Linked DNA regions of Homo sapiens: region 1 is linked to region 2. The links come from fine-mapping of genetic effects on gene expression. A gene starts in region 2. The other region holds a variant in brackets. All regions are shown on one strand. Distances are between the middles of the regions. Region 1 overlaps UBE2D1 (ubiquitin conjugating enzyme E2 D1). Region 2 holds the start of IPMK (inositol polyphosphate multikinase).

Region 1 (4,392 bases), 77 kb after region 2:
TGTACACCTTCCCAGTATCTTTTTTTTTCTCTTTTATGAGTTTCCAAACAGTTTAGTGAATAATAAACATCCACTTTTTAAAATGGAATAGAAAATATTAGTGCTTTGCATATAGTAAGGGTGTTGTTTCATGAAATTTGTTTTAGTGTGTGTGTGTGTACTAGGTTGTAATGTAAAATCTTTTTCATATTATAAATTGCTGTAAGGAAAGCTGGAAAATCACTGTTCCATAACATAAGATCCTTAGGTAAAATTAATGTTAAAAATACATGCCATACAACCATACATATACATGTATACATATATAGGGAGAGCAAATGAATACATATACACATACACAGAGACACACAAATATATTGATACACATATACACATAATGTAAACTGTTCTAGCCTTGGAAACGTTTGCATTTGATACAGACCGTATGCATTGTTTTCTTCTACAAGTAGCAGCATTTTAGTGACTGATGTACAACCATAATATTCAAGAATAATACTGGATGATACTAACAGAGAGTAGAGAATTTATTATGAAACACTCAAGTGCCCACTATATGCCAGTTATTAGGTATAGAGCTGTAAGAAGCAATATTTAATAACAAATATTTGGTAGGTATTGGTAGGCATGTTCATGTTTTACACACGTTTTAATAAATAGGCAGCTAGGTTTTCTCTCTTTTTTCTTCCATCTTTTTTTGGTTACTGTAAAGTAAATAGTAAGTTTTGATAATGGAGCACTCAAAATGCTCCATTTGCATATTTTATGTGAAAATTCTATTTATTTAAGTTGTGTATAATTTCCTGTAAAGTTTTTCTTGACTCTCAGAGTGTCTTTAAACACAACGCTCCTGAAAGCTTATGAAATAGTATTCGTTTCTAACCTTTTATATGATATAAGCTCCTGAGAAAAGATAAGAATTCCTTCTCATTCCTTCACTTATCACACTTTTGTTTCTCTGGAGCATAGCTAAAAATGTGCAAATGGCCTTAATACAGTACTGGAGCATTGTTTGCTTCAGTGTTGGTTGAAAATAATGTGCTCTAGCTGTTACAGTGTTGAGGTGAGTATTGAATTGGGGTGGGAAGAGTGCTGGAGTAGAAGTCAGATGGTCTGTCCCTTTGTCCTAGTTTGGCTTTGTGACCTTGGCCAGGAGACTCAGTCTTTATACTCCTCACTTGGAAACTTAATGGATTGAACTTGATACTTTCTGTCATCTCTTCTGAATCATAATTTTAGGCAAACCTAAATAATGTATTTGCTGTTTTTTTTTTTGCAGCAAACAACAGTGATCACAAAAACAAACACTGAGCTTTGGCACTGTGCTATGGAGCTATATTAGACTTGACTTAAAATTCCATTTACTTTGAAATATCAGATTTGAAATAAATGTTGACATCTCTTAATGTATAAGGTCAATAAATCTTATTCTCTAACTAAAGAGCAATTATTTATGATGCAAATAAAATGTATTTCTATTATTGCACTGGTAACATAACGTGGTTCTCTAATTCCATTTAGCTTTTCTCTATTTGTTAGCTTTTGTACTTAAGATTGTTTTATCCACATATTTAGACAACTGCCATACACAGCTGCACAGCTGCCTTATAGGTAATAGTTTTTTTGTTTTTTTTTTTTTTAATGACAAAGTCTGGCTCTGTCACCCAGGCTGGACTGCAGTGGCATGATCTCAGCTCACTGCAACCTCCACCTCCTGCGTTTAGGGGATTCTCATGTCTCAGCCCCCTGAGTAGCTGGGTCTACAGGTGTGCACTACCATGCCTGGCTAATTTTTGTATTTTTAATAGAGACAGGGTTTTGCCATGTTGTCCAGGCTGGTCTCGAACTCCTGACTTCAAGTGATCCACCCGCCTTGGCCTCCCAAAGTGCTGGGATTACAGGTGAGAGCCATGGTGCCCAGCCTATGTAATAGATTTTTAAGATTCAGTGCTGGGCACGTGGCTCATGCCTGTAATCCCAGAACTTTGGGAGACCGAGGCAGAAGAAACACTTGAGCCCAGGAGTTTGAGACCATCCTGGGCAACATAGTGAGATCCCATTTATTT[T/A]AAAAAAAAAATTAAAAAATAGCTCAGCATCGTGGCACGTGCCTGTAGTCTCAGCTACTTGGGAGGCTGAGGTGGGAGGATCACTTGAGCCCAGGAATTCAAGATTACAGTGAGCTGTGATTGTGCCACTGCACTTCAGCTTGTATGACAGCAAGACCCTGTCTCAAAAGATTCAAGTTAATGCATTTATCAAACACCTTCTGATACAAGGCATATATTAAATGCAGTAAGGAGATGCTAGTTATGTAGAAAAACAGGTATCACCATTATCTAAGAAATTTAAAATTAATAAGTGTAAGAAAAGTCCTGTAACAACTAGATGGATTTAGGAAAGTACCAAACAGAAAATACAATATATTTAAACAGGAAGGGAGTCAAAGATGGGAGAGGCCAAATTTATTTGGGAAAATCAGGAAAAACTGTGGAGAAGATGGAATTTGATATAGGTTGGGAAGACTGGATAGCATTTTGAAAGACTTAGGGGAGCCAGGCTTGTAGAGGAAGCTACGGAAATGAAGACACTAGAATATGCTTGGCTTATTTGGGAAGGAGCAGATAATCCTGCTTTTGGGAATCGTTCAGAAACAGTAGACCATAAAGCTTCATATTGTAGACAACCTTGAAGGCCTGTGCTGAGAAATATGTACTTAATGCAGAAGATTGGGGAAGCCATTGAAGGTTTTTGAGTAATAGGAGCTAATACTTTTTTTTTTTTTTTTTTTAGACGGAGTCTCACTCTGTCACCCAGGCTGGAGTGCAGTGGTACAATCTTTGCTCACTGCAACCTCTGCCTCCCAGGTTCAAGCAATTTTCCTGCCTCAGCCTCCCAAGTAGCTGGGACTACAGGCGTGCACCACCATGCCCGGCTAATTTTTGTATTTTTTAGTAGAGACTGGGTTTCACCATGTTGGTCAGGCTGGTCTCGAACCCCTGACCTCAAATGATCTGCCCGCCTCAGACTCCCGAAGTGCTGGGATTACAGGCGTGAGCCACCATACCCGGCCGGAATGAACACTCTTAATCATAGGCATCCTTGCCCTCATCAAACTCAAGATTGTTTACTGTTTGTCATTATAATTTTGATTAATGTCATGAAAAGGGATGCATGGAGTATTCTAGGAATATAGCAGGGACCCATTGAAGGTTTCAGGGAAAACCTGAAGGCAATGATGTTTAAGATGAGACAAGAAAGTAAAAGTAAAGTAGATAAAATGAAAGAATGAGGGAGAAAGTGTGTTTTGGGGAGGGGAGGTGATTAAGTATCTTCTGCCGAAAAGGAAGCCATGTTTGCAACTAAAGGCAAGATTAAAAGTCATGGCTGGTGCAGAGAGCACTGGGGAAAAGTGTTGCAGATATGACGCTAGAAAGAAGTCACGTCTTGGAAGGTCTGGCAAGTCATTTTAAGGACTTATAAGTCTTACATGAAGGTGAATGGAAAACATCGAAGAGGTTTGACATGGCTCTTCAAGAAGATGATTTTGGCAGCAGTGTATAGGTAGAAAAATAGGAGGACAGTAGGTAAGTTAAGATATTGCACTTAAGTGAGATCCAAAGAGGGTCTAAGCTACAGTGTTAGCAGAGGACATTGAAAAGAGGGATATATGACAAAAATTACAGGGTGTTTGTACCACCTGGCCCTTTTGAGTTGGTGTGATCCATCTATGCCTACACCTTCTTGGCCTTTCAAGTCAAGTATCACAGGCTCCCTGGTCTAGGCAATCTCTTCAGATTCCTCCTTCTGTTATCCAGTCTGGTCCCAGATATTAAGATTGTCTGCCTGGCTGGAACCTTTGGGTTCTTATCCTAAACTACCTCTCCTCTGGCTTATATCAGACTCTTCTACACGTTGGACCTCAGCTGTCCTATTTGATGGGCCTTCTGGGACCCTTTCAGAGGGAGGGATCTAGACAGAAGGAGAATCTGAACAATTTGGTACTTTTCAAATTGTGAAGGAGTGGGATGTGAAGAGAAGAATTAGATGGTAACTCCAAGGTTTAGAGTTTGAATTACTAGAACGAATAAATGCATTTTTACTGTAAGCCTTCATAAAACAGATTCAAATACAGCTTTTACTTGGCTACTTTGGATTTGTCTAAAATCGATTTTTATTTATGTAATTCCTCTGATGGAAATATTATATGTAGAGAGTGTGATCAAGAGTCCGCCATCTAAACAGGAAGCCATGTTTGAAAGTAGAGGCAAGATAGCATTTTGGGAAATTGAATCATTATGCCTGGTGCAGAGAAAACTGGGGGAAAGTGGTTGAGATGTGAGGCACTGAGTAAATAATGTCTGTAATTCTGACCTCAAGCTTTTATTCTAAATTACA
Region 2 (4,371 bases):
AGCAACTTGAGGACGTTGTTTCTTTACCTCGGTATACTAAAACAACTGTCAATTTTCACTATTCAATATTTCCTGAGTGTTACTGATTCCCAGTCCGTGCACAAGGCTATGAGAGAATACAGATTCTCTCTCTAACATCTAGGAATTCACAATTCAGTGGGGAGAAAGGCACACAAACAAAGTAGGTAAAAATAAAAGTAGTGGAAAATGTCGCTTTGAGAAATAGCATATACTCAAATTAATACTTATCCATTTTCTAAAAGCCTTGAGTTGTTTCAGCAAACACAATACATGGTGAAAAAATACAGTACTCAAAGGAAGAACTCTTGGTTTCACAATTCTTAACATATTGTAACGTGACTTCAGGCACGTCATTCTTAACCAGGGTTGGCCTTAGTCACCTCGTCTAAAAATGTCAGTATTAGCAACCTAAACCCGAATCGTTTTACCGGCATAAACTAAATTGTCTCTAGTGGCTCTTCCGGGTCAAAGATCCACAATACTCACATACTCATCCATCAGATTACCCCAGTAATCATGGCCCAGGGAACCACTACGGGTAAACTAGATGAATTAGAGTTCCTAAACTGAGATAGGCTTTAAACTTGTGAACTCAGAAAATGTATTACAGTGGCCATGATACAGCCTTATAAAATGAACAAGAATAGCTGAACATTTTGTGTATCATTCTGGTACAATATGCGTGTGAATTTCCCACCAGGAATCCGAGTTTCTGCACTACTGGAACCACGCCTCCCAGAGAAATCAAGGAGACACCAGAAAAACCTCCTCAAGGGACAGGGAAAAATCACGGACAAGCTTTCTTCCCTTCTCACCTCCCCCTAAAAAAGCCCAGTGTTTTTCTTCCCCTCCAGCTATGCAGCTGCACCCAGCAGAGAAGTACTAGATTAGCATCATCTGCATTTCATTCCTTTTCTTTTGCAATAGCTACTCGCCTATAATAAACAGACCTTGTGCTCAAGGGAGAATTTACTTCCCCGTCCAGTAAAAATGAAGTTCCTTATTTTCACTAACAACGCCGTCTCCAATCAACACCCAACCTCCCTGGGGGGTGGGTGAGACCAGACACGCCTCTCCCTGCCACCCGTGCTGCAAGCCTGACGACCCACACCCTAGGAATTGTCCCACTTTCCGAGCCCCTTCTGCTCGAGTGGCGAGGCTTCGGGGGACAGCGGAAGAGGCCAGGGATTTGGCGTGCACACCAGGGGGGCGTCCAGGCAGGCCCGAGAGCGCTAGGCTGCCTCCGCTGACAGGGGGCTCGCACAGGCGGAAGGGGAGCGGCGAGACCTATGCCACCCCCACTTACCCACTTTGTCCTTCCCGTACATGTGCCCGGCCACCTGATGCGAGAGGGGCACGCAGCCGTTGAGGAAGCGGAGTCTGCCGCCCGCCGGCTGCGGGGTGCCCTCAGGGGTGGACTCGATCGCCGGTGAGGTCCGCATTTCTGGGGGGCCCGGCGCCTCGACCCGGAGGGGGGATGGTGGCTCTGTTGCCATAACGGAGAGCAGAAGCGGTAACGGCAGCGAGAGTAGGAAAAAAAATAGGGCGAGGGAGGGGGCGCCGGAGAACCCGAGGGTCGCTCAGGCTCGGGCGCGAGGAGGCCCGGGGGTTCCCGCGGCTGGTGCCCTCTGAAGCGCGGGGAGGGGGCCCATGACGCCGCCGGGGCGCGGGCGCTCCTCTGCCCAACTCTCGGCGGAACGCGGCTCCCGGCTCCTGTTCCTCTGCCGCCGCAGCCGCCGGCCCCGGCGCTGCCCGGTAGACAGAACCGAGCCGAAGAACAGCAGCAGCGGCGCCCCGCGCTCCCTGGGGCCCTGACGGCGACGGCGGNCCCACCTCCTGCGCCCCCGCCCCCTCCCGCCGTCCTCCAGTCCCCTCAGCTGCCGCGCGCGCGTCACCGCCGCCCGCACCGCCGCTGCCGCCGCTACTGAGCATGCCCAGAGGCCGTCCAACGGGATTCCGGCCCCCCAAGTCAGCGGGGCGGGCGCGCCGTGCTGCCAGGACCTGGCGACGGCGACAGGGATAGGGCGAGCGCACCCCTGTTTCTTCTCACCCCCACCCCGCGGGCATTTCGAAGTCACGCGTGCTGCTGTGGCCTCATTCATTCAACACGCTTCTCAGCGCGTCAGCTCAGAGAAGCCAGGGACTTCTAAGTGTGCGGAGCAGTCCGGCAAGAATTGGAAGGCACTAGCATTGCCAAGGGTGGCTCTAAAGGCCACCCCTAACTGCACTCAACTCCCTCCAACTCCCACCCCGCACGAAAACAACAGAAGTAAAAGCAGGCAGCTTATTAGAGATGCGCCTTCAAAATACCCTTCGAGTTAATCTCAGCCCCCCTCCCCGGATTGCTGTCTCTAAACCGCTCTTACCAAAAAGTAAAACACATAAAAATAAAATAAAATTGGAACCGACACGAATTTCAGACTGTAGAAGACAGAGAAAACTTCTAATTTTTTTAAGTGAACATGTTTTTTAAAGAAAGGAGCAAGTTTTTTCTCTCCCACTCGACCTTTAAGATAGTGCAGGTTCCAAGGTCCTGAGTAGATAATTATATCAAAAGCAGAAAGGGATGGACACCGGTAGCTACGCGAGGTTCTGGAATGGGACTCAGTCATTGATTCCTGTATGTCCGCCGCTGGCATGTTATATAAAAGCTGGACCTGGCCTTGAAGGTAAATCGTCACAAGCCCCGAGCAAGAAAAACTGGGGTCAAATCTTAGGTATCTGATTAAAGTAAGTGTCCTATTAACACCTGTTTCTGCCCCCAGAAGCCCACACACCTGGAAGAGACGTAAAATCTGGCCTGGATTCCCTAATCCCAGGGCCCTGCCCCTCGGCTTCAGGGCCCCGCCCCTCGGCTTCAGGGCCCCGCCCCTCGGCGTTGCGCAAACTCTGTTGCTACCTAAGTCTTTTCCTCCTCCCACCTCCCGTAGCTGTCAAAATCCGGAGTCCAGACTTCCTTATGGCCAGGACAGCTCCACGCATGCTCAGCACCTACCAGGGTCGAGCTCACACACGTGCCTACGACCCGCCGCGGCGCCTGCGCGGTAGCATCGCGGAGTCGGTGCTTTAGTACGCCGCTGGCACCTTTACTCTCGCCGGCCGCGCGAACCCGTTTGAGCTCGGTATCCTAGTGCACACGCCTTGCAAGCGACGGCGCCATGAGTCTGACTTCCAGTTCCAGCGTACGAGGTGAAGTGGGGCCTGGGAGCGGGTGAGGCTGGTGAGGCTCAGCGGTTGCCGCGCCCGCAGTTCGACTGGGTTGTTTTACCACTGCCCTACGCGCCCGCCGGTCCTATAACCTTGAGATGCAGAAGGGCAAGCGCTCGGCCCGGCTGCGGGCTCCGGGCCGGACAGCGAAAGGGGGCGAGGTCAGGGATGGATTGATGGTTTGGGGCCATGCCGGACCAGAGTCCACGTTTACCCCAGCTAGCCAAACCCTAACACCTAATGACCGCGCCGCTAGCTTTTCTTGTTCACCCCTAAGACGCTTTCATGTCCTTAAGTCACATAGCCTGGAAAAGAAGGAAAGGTGGGAGAAAACAACAGCAAACCTGTTTGCCCTTCTCATGTTTCAGTCAGCGTCGGGCCACAACGTCGATTTCCTGCAATCCTGAAGCATTGCGTGACTAATCACATCTTAGTTTTGCAGATTTTTTTTTAAGGGATGAAACGCAATCCGAGGTTTTCAGTTTTCCCGGTTTTTTATTATTCCTCTGGCATCTGACACTCGGTGGCAGTAGTCCAGGATAAAGGATTGAAAACTGCGTTCGTTGAACCTTCAGCTTTCTGAGTCTTCTTTCCCCTGTGCTAGTACCTAGCGTTTGGAAACAGTATTTCGCAGAAAGTCCCGTTATAATAAAATTAAGAGACTTTATAAGCAGTCATTTAATGTGGAGTTTCACTTTATAACCATTCTTGGTGATGTTATAATTGTTAATATAATACTGTGTACCAGACACACAATATATGTGATCTTTGCCCCTCTATAAAACGCCACTTCGCAAGGTTTTGAGTAAAGGCAAAGAGACTGTCTAGAGGTTAATTAAAAATACGTTCAGTAAATATTGAACATCTGTAGTGCCAGGTAATAAAAAGTCCCTACTAACTTGAGCCCTAATTTTTTAATAGGTAGTTTCCAAAAATTGGAGAGTTCCACTTCTGTTGACAAAATTTACCTGGCTAAGGGTGATATTCCATGACATTTCGAAGTTACTAATGATATAGAGATTATTATTTGCAAAAATTATATTAAAGGATACTCATCTTGAGACTTTTTTTAATAGAGGCAGCTTGGTGCATTTAAAATAGGGTGTGATTTTTGTTTTTGTTTTTTAAAAAACTATATTCTCT

Evidence for each region. PIP is the estimated chance that this variant, and not a neighbour inherited with it, causes the effect.
Region 1: its variant is the best candidate, but not a certain one, in a credible set for the expression of IPMK in whole blood (INTERVAL, PIP 0.75).

What each region holds. Positions count from the first base shown.
Region 1 is chr10:58,343,245-58,347,636 of GRCh38, forward strand. The region is part of intron 1 of UBE2D1 (ubiquitin conjugating enzyme E2 D1); the gene reads left to right. Among named protein-coding and RNA genes, the nearest start is that of UBE2D1, 10 kb to the left of the region's middle. The variant T/A (reference allele first, on the strand shown) is at 2,064.
Region 2 is chr10:58,266,095-58,270,465 of GRCh38, forward strand. It overlaps IPMK (inositol polyphosphate multikinase), which reads right to left and starts at 1,800. Exons shown (of 6, transcript NM_152230.5): 1 at 1,328-1,800. The coding sequence starts at 1,517. It overlaps CISD1 (CDGSH iron sulfur domain 1), which reads left to right and starts at 3,068. Exons shown (of 3, transcript NM_018464.5): 1 at 3,068-3,210. The coding sequence starts at 3,180. RefSeq lists enhancers at 971-1,080, 1,035-1,329, 2,774-3,330, 3,176-3,225 and silencers at 1,581-2,090, 2,796-2,855, 3,446-3,495.